Regions from separate parts of the Homo sapiens genome. Here region 2 is linked to region 1. The links come from fine-mapping of genetic effects on gene expression. Tissue or cell type: whole blood. Region 1 holds a variant in brackets; the other region holds the start of a gene. All regions are shown on one strand. Distances are between the middles of the regions.

Region 1 (8,110 bases):
GATTTTCCATTTTTAAATAATTGATTTGTAGTTTTTTACCTCTGTGGAAAGGAAATAAACTTTGTGAATCTATTCTTGAAATTTGTTGATTTGCTTCAATGCCCAATATTTCATCAGTTTTCTTAAATATTCCACTCACTGTTTAAAAATAAAATTAAATAACCCTTTTATAATAATGTAGGAACCTGTAAATGACATTTTGAAAAAAAAAAGTTATCTGTAAAGCAATTTGTAAGAGAGCAACTAGGTTCCATTTTATAGTTGGCAAACCACAGAGACACAGCCTTTGATGTAAAATAAAGATGTGTTCCAAAGAAGAAAGGAAGAATTCAAGTTTTATAGCAAAATTTCCTTCCCAGGTTCCCTTTCAGGTAGGTTTGTGCAAAATGAAGGATTCTGACTCATTTAGTTTTGATGGATGATAGAACTGAGCCCTGATTAGTCGAGACAGTTGAGCCTTGGTTGGTTGAGGCCCGTGAGCTCTGATTGGTTGGTTCAAGTGAGCTCTGGAAGTTTCACAGTTTGTTCTGTTATTAGTCTCTTACCTTTGTGTGTGTGAGTTCTGATTGGTTGGTTCGAGTAAGCTCTGGAAGTCTCACAGTTTAGTCTGTTATTAGTTTATTACCTTTGTGTTTGTCCGTGTGTGTGTGTGTGTGATGAGAGCACATAAAATCTATTCTCTTAGCAAATTTTTAACATACAATACAATATTATTAACTACAGCTCTACTCTTGTAGAAATCTCTAAATTTATTTATCCTGCAAAACTACAAATTTGCATTCTTTAATTTACATCTCCCCATTTCCTGCCACCCCCCCTCCACACCTGCTAACCACCCTTCTACTCTATTTCTGTGTGTTTGACTTTTTTTCTTAGATCTTACGTATAAGTGAGATACAGCATTTTTCTTTCTGTTATTGGCTTATTTCACTTAATAAACCTGGAGGTTTATCCTCCAGGTTCATCCATATTGTCATAATGGCATTATACCCTTCTTTTCTAAGGTCAAATAATATCTTAATGTGTGTGTATATGTCTATGTCTATATACAGATATAGATGTCACAACTTTTTATCAATTCATACATCTATGAGCACTGAGTTTGCCATTGTGAATAAAGCCACAATGAACGTGGCAGTACAGATATGTCCTGAAAAGATCTACAAAGCCAAGCAGATAATTTGAATAAGTAGAGTGGACCAAGCCTGTTTTGCTCCCTTCTAGGACGGCAGCATGTTGCAGTACAAGTGAAACATTTGTAAATATTTGAATAATGTTTTTATTGGCTCTGTTTGTATGATGAATGATTCTCCTGCACTGCTCCCCCACCTCCAACCGCAAAATATTACCAGCATCCATTGGAATGCACGTATTATCCTAATCACTGGGTTTTGACCAGTCTAGGTACTCCACTAAAGATATTTTCTTTCCTTGACTCCAGAAGAGAAACTAATAGCCCATGTGATTTTTGGGAAAAGGGGTTTGAACAGAACTTTGGAGATGAAGAGTGGGCTATGGGTTAAAAGTGTAATATGATGCAATACCCAAAATGTGGTGTACATGCCTCTTCAGGTACATGAGATAGTTTTAAGTGGTACACAGACTTGTAAGGAATTTTTTATTTGTATAAATATAAGAGGTACAGGTGCAGTTTTGTTACATGGATATATTGCACAGTGGTGAAGTCCAGGCCTTCAGTGTAACCATCACCCAAATAGTGTACATTGTACCCATTAAGCAATTTCTGATCCTTCACCCTCCTCCCACCTTTCCAAGTCTCCAATGTTTATTATTCCACGCTCTATGTCCACGGAGGTACACAGATTTTTAAAAACAGTTTATGCCGTTTAATTAAAAATATGTCAATAACATGTTATCTGTGAAACCATAGATATTATTGCTTACAAAATACAAAAAAGTTATTTAAAATCAGTTAATTAAAATAGCTTTCTTAAATAAATAATTGTATGGGTGATATGCACATATGGCAAAAAAGGATCAAACTGTTAGTGGAATGACTAGTTAACATGTTGTCAAAATGCCTAGGAATCAGACAAACCTGGTTCAAACCTCACCCACCACTTACTAGCCATGTGACTTTAGGCAAGTAACCTAATTTCTCTGAGTCTCAGGGTAAAATAAGAATAATAACAGTACCTGCTTCACTGGGTTGTTGTTAAGCTTAAGTGAGGTGCATTATAGTGTAGTGATGGGGTGCACAAAATCTAAAGCTAGATGCCCTGGTTTCAAATCCAAGCTCTACCACTTACCAGCTAAGTGATGTTGAGCAACTTACTTAACCTTTATGTGCCTTAATTTTCCCACCTGTAAGTGGGATTATTATGAGGGTTGTATGAGTTAATACCTTTGGAGTGCTTAGAAACATTCTAGTATATATTAAGTGTTCCTTGGAAACAATCCTAGTGTAAGCATTATGTGTTTGTTAGATTAAAAATAAACGTGTAGTCTGAACACGGTGGCTGACCCCTATAATCCCAGCACTTTGGGAGGTCAAGGTGAGAGGATCGCTTGAGCCCAGGAGTTCAAGATCATCCTGGGCAACATAGCAAGGCACTGTCTCTACAAAAAAATTGAAAAAGTAGCCAGATGTGGTAGTGCACACTTGTAGTCACAGCTACTCAGGAAACTAGACAGGAGGATTGCTGGAGCCCAGGAGTTTGAGGCTGCAGTAAGCCATGATTGTGCCACTGCATTCCAGCCTGGCAGACAGAATGAGACCCTGTCTCAAGAAAAGAATAAAAATAAAAAATAAATGTCTACACATCTCACAAAATTTAGCAAGTTCTCATGAAATGTAACCCATTGATGTTGCTTTGGATTTCCAACACCAAAATGAAATAAATATGCAATCAGCATTTGATTAAGAGGCAGCATTTAATTGCTCAGCATACACAGAGAACTAGCAAACTCCAGCACCTCTCTGCAGTAGGAATTAAAAACAAGTCTCATGGAAGCTGGGTCTTCTTCAAGGACTATCAGGAGTGAGGTTAGAAAGAAGCCCCAAGTTATCTTTCTGTATCCTGCTAAGGTTAAGTGTGGGCCATTTCAATTTACAGATGAGGAAATTAGGTCTCAGAGAAATTAAGCAAGCTGCCCAATGTTATGAAGCATATAAATGATAAAGCTAGATGGTATGCTACCTTTATGGAAGACCCTACATCCCAAGCAGAGGAATTTAGAGTTTATCCAGTGAAGTGGGGAGATAAAATGTGTATTTTATGGAAATTAGTATGGTAGAGGTATAGTGATGATGAGAGTAATATAACAACAATATCATTAGTTGAGATTCTACCACTATTATTGGATACCTCTGAAACATTCTTAGATATCCAGTCTTAAAAAACTCTCCTGTGATACCACACCTCACTTTTGCTACTCACTGACCAGTATCCATTTTCTGTTTTTAATTCAAACTTCTTTGAAAGAGTACTCTGTTTATATGTCCATTTCTCATCACCCACTCACTCCTCAAATGATTGAAGTTTGGCTTTTATTCCCCAACCCATCCCTATCCCCCAACACATACTCCAACAAATCTAGCCTCATCAACCTTCAAATACACACATACCTTGAACATAT[T/A]GTGGGTTCAGTTCCAGACGACTGCAATGAAGTAAATTATCACAATAAAGTCAGTAACACAAATTTTTTGGTTTCCTAGTATATATAAAAGTTATATTTACACTATACTGTAGTCTCTTAAGTATACAATAGCATTATTCTAAAAAACATATGTAACTTAATTTAAAAATACTTTGCTGCTAAAAAATGCTAATGATCATCTGAGCCTTTAATGAGTTGTAATCTTACTGGTGGAGGAGGGTCTTCCTTTGATGTTGATGGTTGCTGACTGATAAGGATGGCAGTTGCTGATGGTTGGGGTGGCTGTGGCAATTTCTTAAAATAAAACAGCAATGAAGTTGGCCACATCAATTGACTCTTCCTTTCATGAAAGATTTCTCTGTGGCATGTGATGCTGTTTAATAGCATTTACCTACAGTAGAACTTCTTTCAAAATTGGAGTCAGTGCTTTCAAACCCTGACACTGTTTTATCAACTAAATTTATGTAATATTCTAAATCCTTTGTTGTCATTTCAACACTATTCACAGCACCTTCACCAAGAGTAGATGCCATCTCAAGAAGCTACTTTGCTCATCCATAAGAAACCACTCCCCCATGCTCATGGATAGGAAGAACCAATATTGTGAAAATAGCCTTACTGCCCAAAGTAATTTATAGATTCAATGCTATCCCCATCAAGCTACCAGTGACTTTCTTCACAGAATTGGAAAAAACTACTTTAAAGTTCATATGGAACCAAAAAGGAGCCCGCATAGCCAAGACACTCCTAAGCAAAAAGAACAAAGCTGGAGGCATCACGCTACCTGACTTCAAACTATACTGCAAGGTTACAGTAACCAAAACAGCATGGTACTGGTACCAAAACAGATATATAAACCAAAGGAACCAAACAGAGCCCTCAGAAATAATGCCACATATCTACAACTATCTGATCTTTCACAAATGTGACAAAAACAAGAAATGGGGAAAAGATTCCCTATTTAATAAATGGTGCTCGGAAAACTGGCTAGCCATATGTAGAAAGCTGAAACTGGATCCCTTCATTACACTGTATACAAAATTTAACTCAAGACGGATTAAAGATTTAAATGTAAGACCTAACACCATAAAAACCCTAGAAGAAAACCTAGGCAATACCATTCAGGACATAGGCATGGGCAAAGACTTCATGACTAAAACACCAAAGGCAATGGCAACAAAAGCCAAAATTGACAAATGGGATCTAATTAAACTAAAGAGCTTCTGCACAGCAAAATAAACTATCATCGGAGTGAACAGGCAACCTACAGAATGGGAGAAAATTTTTGCAATCTACCCACCTGACAAAGGGCTAATATCCAGAATCTACAAAGACCTTAAACAAATTTACAAGAAAAAACAACCCCATCAAAAAGTGGGCAAAGGATATGAACAGACACTTCTCAAAAGAAGACATTTATGCAGCCAACAGACATATGAAAAAATGCTCATCATCACTGGTCATCAGAGAAATGCAAATCAAAAACAATGAGTTACCATCTCATGCCAGTTAGAATGGAGATCATTAAAAAGTCAGGAAGCAACAGATGCTGGAGAGGATGTGGAGAAATAGGAATGCTTTTACACTGTTGGTGGGAGTGAAAATTAGTTCAACCATTGTGGAAGACAGTGTGGCAAGGATCTAGAACTAGAAATACCATTTAACCCAGCAATCCCATTACTGGGCATATACCCAAAGGATTGTAAATCATTCTATGATAAAGACACATGCACACATATGTTTATTGTGGCACTATTCACAATAGCAAAGACTTGGAACCAACCCAAATGTCCATCAGTGATAGATTGGATTAAGAAAATGTGGCACATATACACCATTGAATACTATGCAGCCATAAAAATGGATGAGTTCATGTCCTTTGCAGGTTAATGGACGAAGTTGGAAACTCTCATTCTCAGCAAACTATCACAAGGACAGAAAACCAAACACCGCATGTTCTCACTCATAGGTGGGAGTTGCACAATGATAACACATGGACACAGGGAAGGGATCATCACACACTGGGGCCAGTCAGGTGATGGGGAGCTGGGGGAGGGATAGCATTAGGAGAAATACCTAATGTAAATGATGAGTTGATGGGTGCAGCAAACCAACATGGCACATGTATGCCTATGTAACAAACCTGCATGTTGTGCAGATGTACCCTAGAACTTAATGTATAATAATAATTTTTAAAAAAGAAACAACTCCTCATCCATTCAAGATTTATCAAGAGATTGCAGCAATTCTGCCACATCTTCAGGCTACACTTCTAATTCTAGTTCTCTTGCTATTTCCACCACATCTGCAGTGACTTTCTCCACTGAAGTCTTGAACCCCTCAAAGTTATCCATGAGAGTTCGAATCAACTTCTTCCAAACTCCTGTAAATGTTGATATTTTGACCTCCTCCCATAAACCATGAAAGTTCTTAATGGCATCTAGAATGGTGAATCCTTTCCAGAGGTTTTCAATTTTCTTTGCTCAGATCCATGAGAGGAATCAATATCTACAGCAGCTATAGCCTTATGAAATGTATTTCTTAAATAGTAAGACTTGAAAGTCAAAGTTACACCGTGATCTATGGGCTACAGAATGAATGCTGTGTTAGCAGGCATGAAAACAACATTAACCTCCTTGTATATCTTCATCAGGGCTCTTGGGTGACTAGGTACATTGTCAATGAGCCATAATATTTTGAAAGGAATCTTTTTTTCTGAGCAGTAGGTCTCAGTAGTGGGCTTAAAATATTCAGTAAATTATGCTGTAAACAAATGTGTTATCATCCAGGCTTTGTTGTTTCATTTCTAGAGCACAGGCAGCATAGATTTGGCATAATTCTTAAGGGCCCAAGGATTTTCGGAATGGTCAATAAGAATTGGCTTCGAATTAAAATCACCAGCTGCATTAGCCTCTAACAAGAAAGTCAGCCTGTCCTTTAAGTCATTGAAGCCAGGCATTGACTTCTCTCTATCTGTGAAAGTCCTAGATGGCGTCTTATTCCAATATAAGGCTGTTTTGTCTGCATTGAAAATTTGTTGTTTTGTGTAGCCACTTTCATCGATTATCTTAGCTAGATTTTCTAGATAACTTTTTGCAACTTTTACATCAGCACTTGCCACTTCACCTTGCACTTTTATGTTATGAAGATAGCTTCTTTCCTTGAACCTCATGAACCAGCCTCTGCTGGCTTCCAACTTTTCTTCTGCAGCTTCCTTATCTCTCTCAACCTCTGCAGAATTGAAGAGAATTAGGGCCCTGCTCTGGGTTAGGCTTTGGCTTAAGGGAATGTTGTAGCTTGTTTGAATTTCTATGGAGACAACTCAAACTTTTTCCATATGGGCAGTAAGTCTGTTTTGCTTTCTTATCATTCACGTGTTCACTGGAGTAACACTTTCAATTTCCTCCACAAACTTTTCCCTTGTGTTCACAACTTGGCTGACTGTCTGGTACAAGAGGCCTAGCTTTTAGCCTATGTTAGCTTTCAACTTTCCTTCCTCACTAAGCTTAATCATTTCTAGCTTTTGATTTAAAGTGAGAGACATGTGACTATTCCTTTCACTTGAACTCTTAGAGGCCACCGTAGGGTTATTAATTAGCCTAATTTCAATATTGTTGTGTCTCAGGGAATAGGGAGGCCTGAGTTAGCCTGCCATCTTATATGGGCACAGTTCATGGTACCCCAAAAGAATTACAACGGTAACATCAAAGATCACTGATCACTGCAACAGATATAATAATAGTGAAAAAGTTAGAAATACTGCAAGAATTATCAAAAGGTGACACAGAGACACAAAATGAGAACATGCTGTTGGAAAAATGTCGCTGATAGACTTGTCTGATGCAGAATTGCTCCAAGTCTTTAATTCATAAAAAACACAGTATCTGCCAAGTGCAATAGAGTGAAGTGCAATAAAATGAGATAGGCCTGTATTTATCACTATGTACAAGGTAGGCACCATTCTAAATTATACATCTACGTCCTCACTTAGTCCTCACAATACCCATGAGATAGGTAACATTATTTCCATTTTACAGATGAGGAAATAGACCCAGAAAAATTAAGTAACTTGCTCAAAATCACAGAGCTTTAAGGCAGAACTTTTGGCCAAAATGTATGTCTTACTGTCAATTTATGGCCACTGTGCTAACATATTGTCAGATTGCCTGGTGTCTTACATTCATAAGACTTGTTTCTGAAAGAATCTCGCAAACCAAAGATTGGTAAATTTGATTTCTATTATGGGAAAGTGGATGGAATCTGAAATAAAAACCAATATTAATTTGCTTTTATTTGTATACGGAAACTCTGGAAAGATAAACAATAAACTATTAGGCTGTGCTGTCCAATATGGTAGACACTAGTCATGTGTGGCTCTTGAGCACTTGACATGTGCCTAGTGCAACTGAGAAAGTGACTTTTTAATTTCAAAAAATTAAATTAAAATAGCCACCTGTGGCTGCTAGCTACTGTATTGGACAGTGCCAAT
Region 2 (8,110 bases), 32 kb before region 1:
ATCTACCCATCTGACAAAGGGCTAATATCCAGAATCTACAAAGAACCTAAACAAATGTACAAGAAAAAATCAAACAACCCCATCAAAAAGTGGGTGAAGGATATGGACACTTCTCAAAAGAAGACATTTATGCAGCCAACAGACACATGAAAAAATGCTCATCATCACTGGCCATCAGAAAAATGCAAATCAAAACCACAATGAGATAGCATCTCACACCAGTTAGAATGGTGATCATTAACAAGTCAGGAAACAACAGGTGCTGGAGAGGATGTGGAGAAACAGGAACACTTTTACACTGTTGGTGGGACTGTGAACTAGTTCAACCATTGTGGAAGACAGTGTGGCGATTCCTCAGGGATCTAGAACTAGAAATACCATTTGACCCAGCCATCCCATTACTGGGTATATACCCAAAGGATTATAAATCATGCTGCTATAAAGACACATGCACATGCATGTTTATTGCAGCACTATTCACGATAGCAAAGACTTGGAACCAACCCAAATGTCCGTCAATAATAGACTGGATTAAGAAAATGTGGCACATATACACCATGGAATAGTATGAAGCCATAAAAAAGGACGAGTTCATGTCCTTTGTAGGGACATGGATGAAGCTGGAAACCATCATTCTGAGCAAACTGTCGCAAGGACAGAAAACAAAACACTGCATGTTCTCACTCATAGGTGGGAATTGAACAATGAGAACACTTGGACACAGGATGGGGAACATCACACACTGGGGCCTGTCGTGGGGTGGGGGAGGGGGGAGGGTTAGCATTAGGAGATATACCTAATGTAAATGACGAGTTAATGGGTGCAGCACACCAACATGGTACATGTATACATATGTAACAAACCTGCACGTTGTGCATATGTACCCTAGAACTTAAAGTATAGCACTAATAAAAAATAAATAAATAAATAAATTAAATAAAAATGAGATAATAGGGCAGAGCTTGCAGTGAGCTGAGATCGCACCACTGCACCCCAGCCTGGGTGACAGTGGGAGACTCCGTCTCAAAAAAAAAAAAAAGAGAGAGAGAGAGAGATAATAGGAATAAAGGCAAGATAACAACTAAATTGTTCTAAAAGCTGCAATCGGTCTAATGAACTGGGTTATCTGCAGAATGCCTTTTAGACTGCTTGTTTGGAAGGCAGCAAAGAAGAGTTTTCATGGGCTTTGGAGTTTGACATCCCTGGCCTGCAATCCCAGTGCCTGCACTTAAAAGTTGTGAAGCCTTACACAAGTTACTTAACATCCCTGAAATTCAGTTTCCCTCTCTGCAAAATGGGATACAATGGCTGTCTCAACAGTGTTGCTGGGAAGCTTAAATGAGATAACAGATAGAAAGTTCCTGGTACAAAGGAGGAAGGCAGCCAAAGGCAGCTATTATTGTTTCAGCTGAAAGCTTTATCTCTAAACCTTCAAGCTTCTAAGGTTTATGTGTTAAAATTACAAAATGTGGTCTCATTAGAGCCATCAGTTGGAACAGACTCACACACATGAGGCCAGAGATAGGATGTCCTGTATCCAATTGGAGCCAGGTTGCAAATACTCCCCCCATCCCTGCACAAAATGTCTCTCGCTTTGTTCCAGTAGTCCAACTCTGGCACCTTTACACAATCCATTTCCTGTCATTATTTTTGTCCGAGCTCTGACACCTATTCTTGGTCTTATGTGATTCCATCCCTACCAAGTCCAGCTGCAAATACCTAATTTGGTGATAAAGCCAATTTAAACACTGAACAAGAGTCTTCTGGGAGGCAAGAGTCAGATGTCACGGGACAGGGGAGCAGAAGCAAAAGTCTGAAGGAAACCTAAGAGCTACTGCCACCATCACCCCTAAGTGTGCGAGGTGAGCAACCTGCCTTCTCCATACATCCACACTTTCCACCTTCCACCACCACTACCCCACTGTTCCATCCACAGGCCACAATCCTGAGATGGAAAGTGCTTCATCTCCAAATCTGTATTGTTTACTCCAAGGAACTCTACATCTTGGGGTTGTAAATAAGAGGGTGGAAATGAGTGAGTGAAGTGCCTTGGCAGGCTGAAGATGAAGCCAACGGCAGTGGAAGGGCTTCAGACTGTTCACTTGCTTCCAAGCATCAGGAGTCAAGAACAGGCCCCACAGGAGCCTCCTAGCCACACTATACATAAAGGAAGTAATACCTGCTCTCTAAGTCAGGGAAAAATGGAGCAGGTTTTCCAGCCACTGCCTTCATGGCCATTCACTTTGGACAGCCCTGCATGCTGTTTCCATGGAGTTGCTCCTTCTCTGGGGCCAGTGATGCCAAATCCAGCAAAGGAGAAGTCCCCTGAAGAGCTCACAGAAGGGCAACCTAGCAACCTGTCCTTGAGCCAGGAAATGAAAGAGCCATATCAGCAACAGAGAGCTGTGGTTTGGGGGTTAGGTTAAATGGGGTTTGATTTCTCACACTTCTTCATCAAGCATGGCTTGAAGAAGGAAGACATTATGACAGACCCATTTGAAAATCTGCAAAGCTGTGGACTCAGAAGAATGTACGGAGTCCAGATTCTTTGCATACAGTTCCAGGAAGGACCGCGGGTAGGAACCTGTGCTCTGGAGTTACATTTCATAACAGATATGCCATGGACAAATACACTGATGACAGGCCCATTTACTTATAACCTTCAGCATCACGTGGTGGTGTTTAGAACAGTGGTTCACGAATCTCTCTACACCTCAGAATCAACTATGGGGCTGTTTAAAACTACAAATCACACTCTTTACCTGTAGTCCTAGTACATCAAAATCCCCCAGGGGTAAGGCCCAGGAATCTGCATTTATAACAAGCTCTCCAAAATGATTCTGAGGCAGCCCACTTTTTACTCACTTTAGTTAATAGTATGAGTTCTGGATTCAGAGATTCGGTCCAAATTTTGGCTTCACCTTGTAATTTCAGACAAATCATTTTACCTCTCTGAGCCTTGCCTCCCTTGGCGTCACAAAGGGCTGTCGAAATTATGTTGCTTTTATAAAAAGGGCAGCTTTTTGTAGTATAAAAAAAAGTATTTTTAAAAAAACGAAGGAAAGAAGAGTGCCAAGAAGAGTTTCCTCTTCTGTACAATGGGCACCATAAAGGTTGCCTTCATCTTCCCTCAGCCCTCTCCCTACTACCTCCTCACCCCCTCCCTCAGCACTATCATCACATTGAGACTGCTGTTGAGATGGTTTGAGACTACCTGTGCAAAAGTGCTCTTCAGACAATGCTGCAGGGCAAACAATTAGCATCTAGAGAGCAACATACAGGTGCTAAGTTGGATGCTGTAACTTCTTTGCTGCGGGATACAGTGCAAGACGCTTAACCTCTCTGTCTTTGGCTCAGTTTCTTCATCTGTGAAATGGAGATAACAGTTCTTGCTCACTAATTCTATGCAGTCCCAAGTTGGTCCTCCCATCCTGGCTTTGGTTTTTCTCCGCTATCCCTTAATCTAACAGAATAGAGGAGTGTTGGCAAGGGGTAGCCTTTGAAGTCAGATATGTTGACTTGGGAGTGAGCTCTTAGCTCTGCACTTCCTAACTGTACCGCCTGGGTGTTTCAGTCCTTTCCTGTTAAGTGGGCACACTGCTACCTCCTTCACAGGGCTGCTGAGAAGAAAGGAGACAGGCGCATCCGCACACAGAAAGCACTCAGTAAATGCTGTTTCCCCCCTTCCCCCTATACAAAGGTAAGGAACTCTCATTGTTCACTTGGTTTCTGTCCCACCTCGTGTTTCAGGCATCCGGTCTCAAAGCCCGGAGCAGAGCCGAGGCGGAAGGGGATGGGGAGAAGGGAAGCGACGGGGTAGCAGCAAACTCACAGATGAAAGGGAAATGGGCCTGGTCCGTGCGTCCGAGCTCCACTTGACGCCGCGCCGGCTCCCGTGCCTGTCGGCCTCAGCCCCCGCCAGCCAGCTCCCGAGTCTTGCTAGCAGTAGCTTCAGGGCCAGAGGCTGCTTGGGTAGGCCGCCTCCTCGCCCCGCTGATTGGCCGCGTCGCGCGGCTTGTCACGCTCTTTTGTCTCAATGGGCAGAGACTGAAAGCAACCGCGGCTGCCCGGAGGTCCGAACTGGAGGGTGGCCGCAGCCGTGACTTCCTTGGGAACCGCGCTGCCTCGACTCGGCTACCTCTCTGCGAAGCACTCGCTAAGCCGGGCAGCCCCGGGGTCGCTTAGCGGCCCAGGAGGCGCCAGCGATCCTGTTCCCCTGCAGAGCTATGGGGACCGGAAGGCGAAACAGAGCTGTCGACGCGGGAGCATACGCTGCCCACCAGTGGAGCGCAGGTAAAGAAAGAGCGCGCGATTTCCCGGCGCGGAGAGGGGTGGGGGAAGCCCCACCAGGACTGGGCGGCGCCCGGCTTGGAGAATCAGTAACTGCGAGGCAGGGGATGGAGCACTCCCATGGCCTGGTTGCGCTGAGAAAGGAGTTGTGGCTCATCTGGATGCTGCCGACTGGGTAGGATTTATGATTTGCCTGGATTGAAGTGGGCGGGGGTGTTGTCGGGCGTCGGGGGCGGGTGTTCGGGGAGGTGGCAAGGGGCGGGAGAAGACGATCGCAAGCTGTCTTGAACCCCTTTTGCATCTCCTCATCTCTTCCTGGGAAGGAATATGGGGGTGGGAGGTCATCCAACTTCTAGTCCCTTTCTCTCCGGCAGGTCATCAAAGCCGAATCCGAATTTGAATTCTGTGCGGCTGATTGCAGAGCTGGTAGGCCGACGGTTTCCCGCAGGAAATGTACGGGGGGCGGGAGTGCAGGAGGCACTTTGGCTTGTGTTCAGAAGATGGGAGAGGGAATTTTCCGCCTGGCGACAGAGGAGGCGGTGGAGGGGAGGTATCAGGTTTTCAGAAGAGGCTGCTCCCAACCCTTCCTTTCCTTCCTTCGCGGCACAGTCTTGAGGCCCTGAGGACTGGGATCTGCGACCCCCAGTGGACAAAAGTCGACTCTACCCCAGAGGCTAATTTTCTCAAGGCAGGCACCTGTTGAGAGGCTGCAAGTAAAATACAGGGGAACGCTAGTTTCCGAGCTCATGTAAGAATCTGAGAAATAACGGGGGTAAACTTTGACAAAGGGGTGTGTGATTGAGACCTGAGGTCATGAGATTAATGGGTTCTTATTACCTCTTGCGGGGGGAGGTAGTAAAGGGGAGGGGCAGGTGGCCTGTGGCGTCCTGAAGATTTTTCATGCATTCTTTTTCCGAGAACTAAACATTGTCAACTCTAATATATCTATAGCGCAACTTGCTTCAAGGACAGTAATAATTTTCATTTAATAATTTTCCATTTAATCCCTTTACTACATGGTCATTTCTGTCTCTTATATTCCTAGGTTTCCCTTTATAAGGATTAGTCAGATCAACATTATATCTCTAACAATGTTCCTTAGCTTTTTCACTCTCATTATACCTAGAGAATTTAATGGAATAAACCAGATTTTATATATATATATATATATATATATATATATATATATAAATGTGTGTGTGTGTGCGTGTGTGTGTGTATAAAATTACTCAACATTCAAGTAGTCTTGAAAAAAGATGGGTAGGAGTCACCTTCTTTCCCTTCATCAGTTACCAGTGTTCTCTTAACATAATGGAAGAGGCAGGAGGTATTCCCACCTACAACTCAGGATTCCTATGTCCTATGGGTTCAGTTGTGTCCCCCCCCCCAAAAAAAAACACCAAATACATCTATTGGACTCCTGACCCCTCGTCTCTCTCCTACTTGAAGATGGGTTTTTTAGTGGGATACTGAAGTTAAATTACATTCATTAGGGTGGGCTCTAACTCGAAATGGCTAGCGTGCATTGTGCCTATCAAAAGGGGAAATTCAGACAAAGAGACATGTGTACAGGGAAGAAAATGTGAAGTAGCATACAGAGAAGTGGGCCATCTACAAGCTGAGGAAAAATCCCTGGAAGAGATCCTTCCCTCTTATTACTCAGAAGGAAACAACCCAGCTGACGCTTTGATTTGGACTTCCAACCTCCAGAACTGTGAACAATTAATGTCTGCTGTTTAGGCCACCCAGGTCTGTGGTACATTGTCAGGCTAACAGAGCAAACCAATAGGGATTCTGTTGCCAGACAGATCTGATAGCTAACACCTGAAAGAGTGGAAGCAGCTTTGGAACTAGATAATGGATAGAGACTGGAAGCATTTTGACATGCATGGCACAAGAAGCCTAGAGGGCCTTTAGGAGATGGCTGGGGGAAATATGGACACCAAATGCAATTCAAGTGAGGGTTAAGAAAAGAATTATTTGCTGCAGACAAAGGATCTCTGACTTAGAGAATACATATATCATGATCACCGATATGTTGCTAGAGCTATGAGTGTTAAAGGTGCTTGTGGTGAGTTATGAGACCGAAACTAGGAAGATGTTACTGGAAGCTTGAGGAAAGGCAATCCTAGTTTTACAGTGGCAAAGGTTTGGTCTGTATTGTTTTCTTAGTGTTTTTGAGGAAAGTAAAAATTGTAAGTGATGAACTTGCACATGCAGCTGACTTCTATTGTTGGGGCTCAGAGCATGATACCCCAAAATAAAGGCCCCAGAAGTAGTCTCGGATGTAAAAGATGTTCTCTGAGGTCCTGGGTCCTCCTGTCTGTCAGCCCCATTCTTCCCAGGGAGCTAACTGTACAGACCAGAATCCCTCTTCCCCAAGGTGGGTCCTAGAAACCAGAAGCCTTTTTTTCTAAAGATAGTCACAAAGCCTAAAAATACTTTTCTAATTTTTCCTCCACCTTTTTTGTGTAAAACTGGTCATAAAGAAATGATCTGACCTTGTTTGACTGCAGGTCACAAGACCCCATTACAGAGAGGGTCCTGCCCCATACCCAGGAGGAAGAAATCTGTGTTCACAGAAGCCAAGCACAGTCTAGACAAACAAGCCCTGCTGGATTAGCATTAGGTCTTAGCCTTTTTGTCCCATCATATTTCTACAGGGCTGTCCATACTTTGTTGAACCTGAGCATATAAATAGACAATTTACCCTGTACCTTTCTGCCTTTGCTCCGAAGGCTGCAGTGTATATATGTTAAATAAATTTGTATGCTTTTTTTTTTTTTGAGACGGAGTCTCGCTCTGTCACCCAGGCTGGAGTGGTGCAATCTCTGCTCACTGCAACCTCCCCCTCCCAGGTTCACACCATTCTCCTGCCTCAGCCTCCCAAGTAGCTGGGACTACAGGCGCCCGCCACCACGCCGGGCTAATTTTTTGTATTTTTAGTGGAGACGGGGTTTCACCGTGTTAGCCAGGATGGTCTCGATCTCCTAACCTCGTGATCCGCCTGCCTCAGCCTCCCATAGTGCTGGGATTACAGGTGTGAGCCACTGCGCCCGGCCTTGTATGCTTTTTCTCTTGTTAATCTGCCTTTTGTGAGTTGATTTCTTAGCAAACCTTCACACAATTTGGTATAGCAAGAAGGGTCACCAAAGCCACTCCACTCTTCTGGAACCTGAAGTTAAGGGAATGCAGTCATCTGACAAGGTGGCAAAAGGGCAAGAATTTCTTACCAGTCAGGCCCCCAGCTTCTCTCTCTGTACAACCCAGTTGGGCAGATGGTACAAAACAAATCCCTCTGTTTGTCTCCTCTACAAGGTTTCATGCCTAGGAGAAAAAGATTGTTGTGTGACTGGTCTAGGTGTAGCAACTCTGGTACACCTTACACTACTTTGTGGTATGAATATTCACATTTTTTATCCCTTTCATGCCAGAAACAGTGTATTCCTTTGACTTTGTCTTTCTGTGTTGTTCATAGAGAGGGTTACAGGATAAAGTTCCCTCTTGTCTTGATCTGTGTTCTTGAGAGCTTGATTTGTGAGCAAGAGGAAGCACTCTCTCTTGCTTGCCACCATCCAGGGGAAGTGATTTTTGGGTCAAAGCAGGTGTCTGGTCTAACAAATCTCTTCGCTGGGAAGCGGAGAGATTTTATTTTGTTCTGAATGTGCCTAGCTCTCGGCAGGATTTGTCATAAGAAGTCTCATCCATAAGGGGCTTTTGTCATCTCAAACTTTATTGTCTCGAGCAAGGATCACCAACCCATAATCCAGGTATTGATACAGGTCCGTGGCCTGTTAGGAACCGGGCCGTTTCAGCAGCA

Evidence for each region. PIP is the estimated chance that this variant, and not a neighbour inherited with it, causes the effect.
Region 2: it holds the start of TMSB15B-AS1, and the variant in region 1 is fine-mapped to the expression of TMSB15B-AS1 in whole blood (TOPMed, PIP 0.96).

The regions. Positions count from the first base shown.
Region 1 is chrX:103,882,633-103,890,742 of GRCh38, reverse strand. All of the region lies in intron 4 of TMSB15B-AS1 (TMSB15B antisense RNA 1), which reads left to right. Among named protein-coding and RNA genes, the nearest start is that of TMSB15B-AS1, 33 kb to the left of the region's middle. The variant T/A (reference allele first, on the strand shown) is at 3,601.
Region 2 is chrX:103,915,015-103,923,124 of GRCh38, reverse strand. It overlaps TMSB15B-AS1 (TMSB15B antisense RNA 1), which reads left to right and starts at 3,577. Exons shown (of 5, transcript NR_146557.1): 1 at 3,577-3,700; 2 at 4,045-4,293; 3 at 4,665-4,716; 4 at 4,900-5,038. It also overlaps a transcript of TMSB15B not described here. RefSeq lists an enhancer at 3,562-3,651.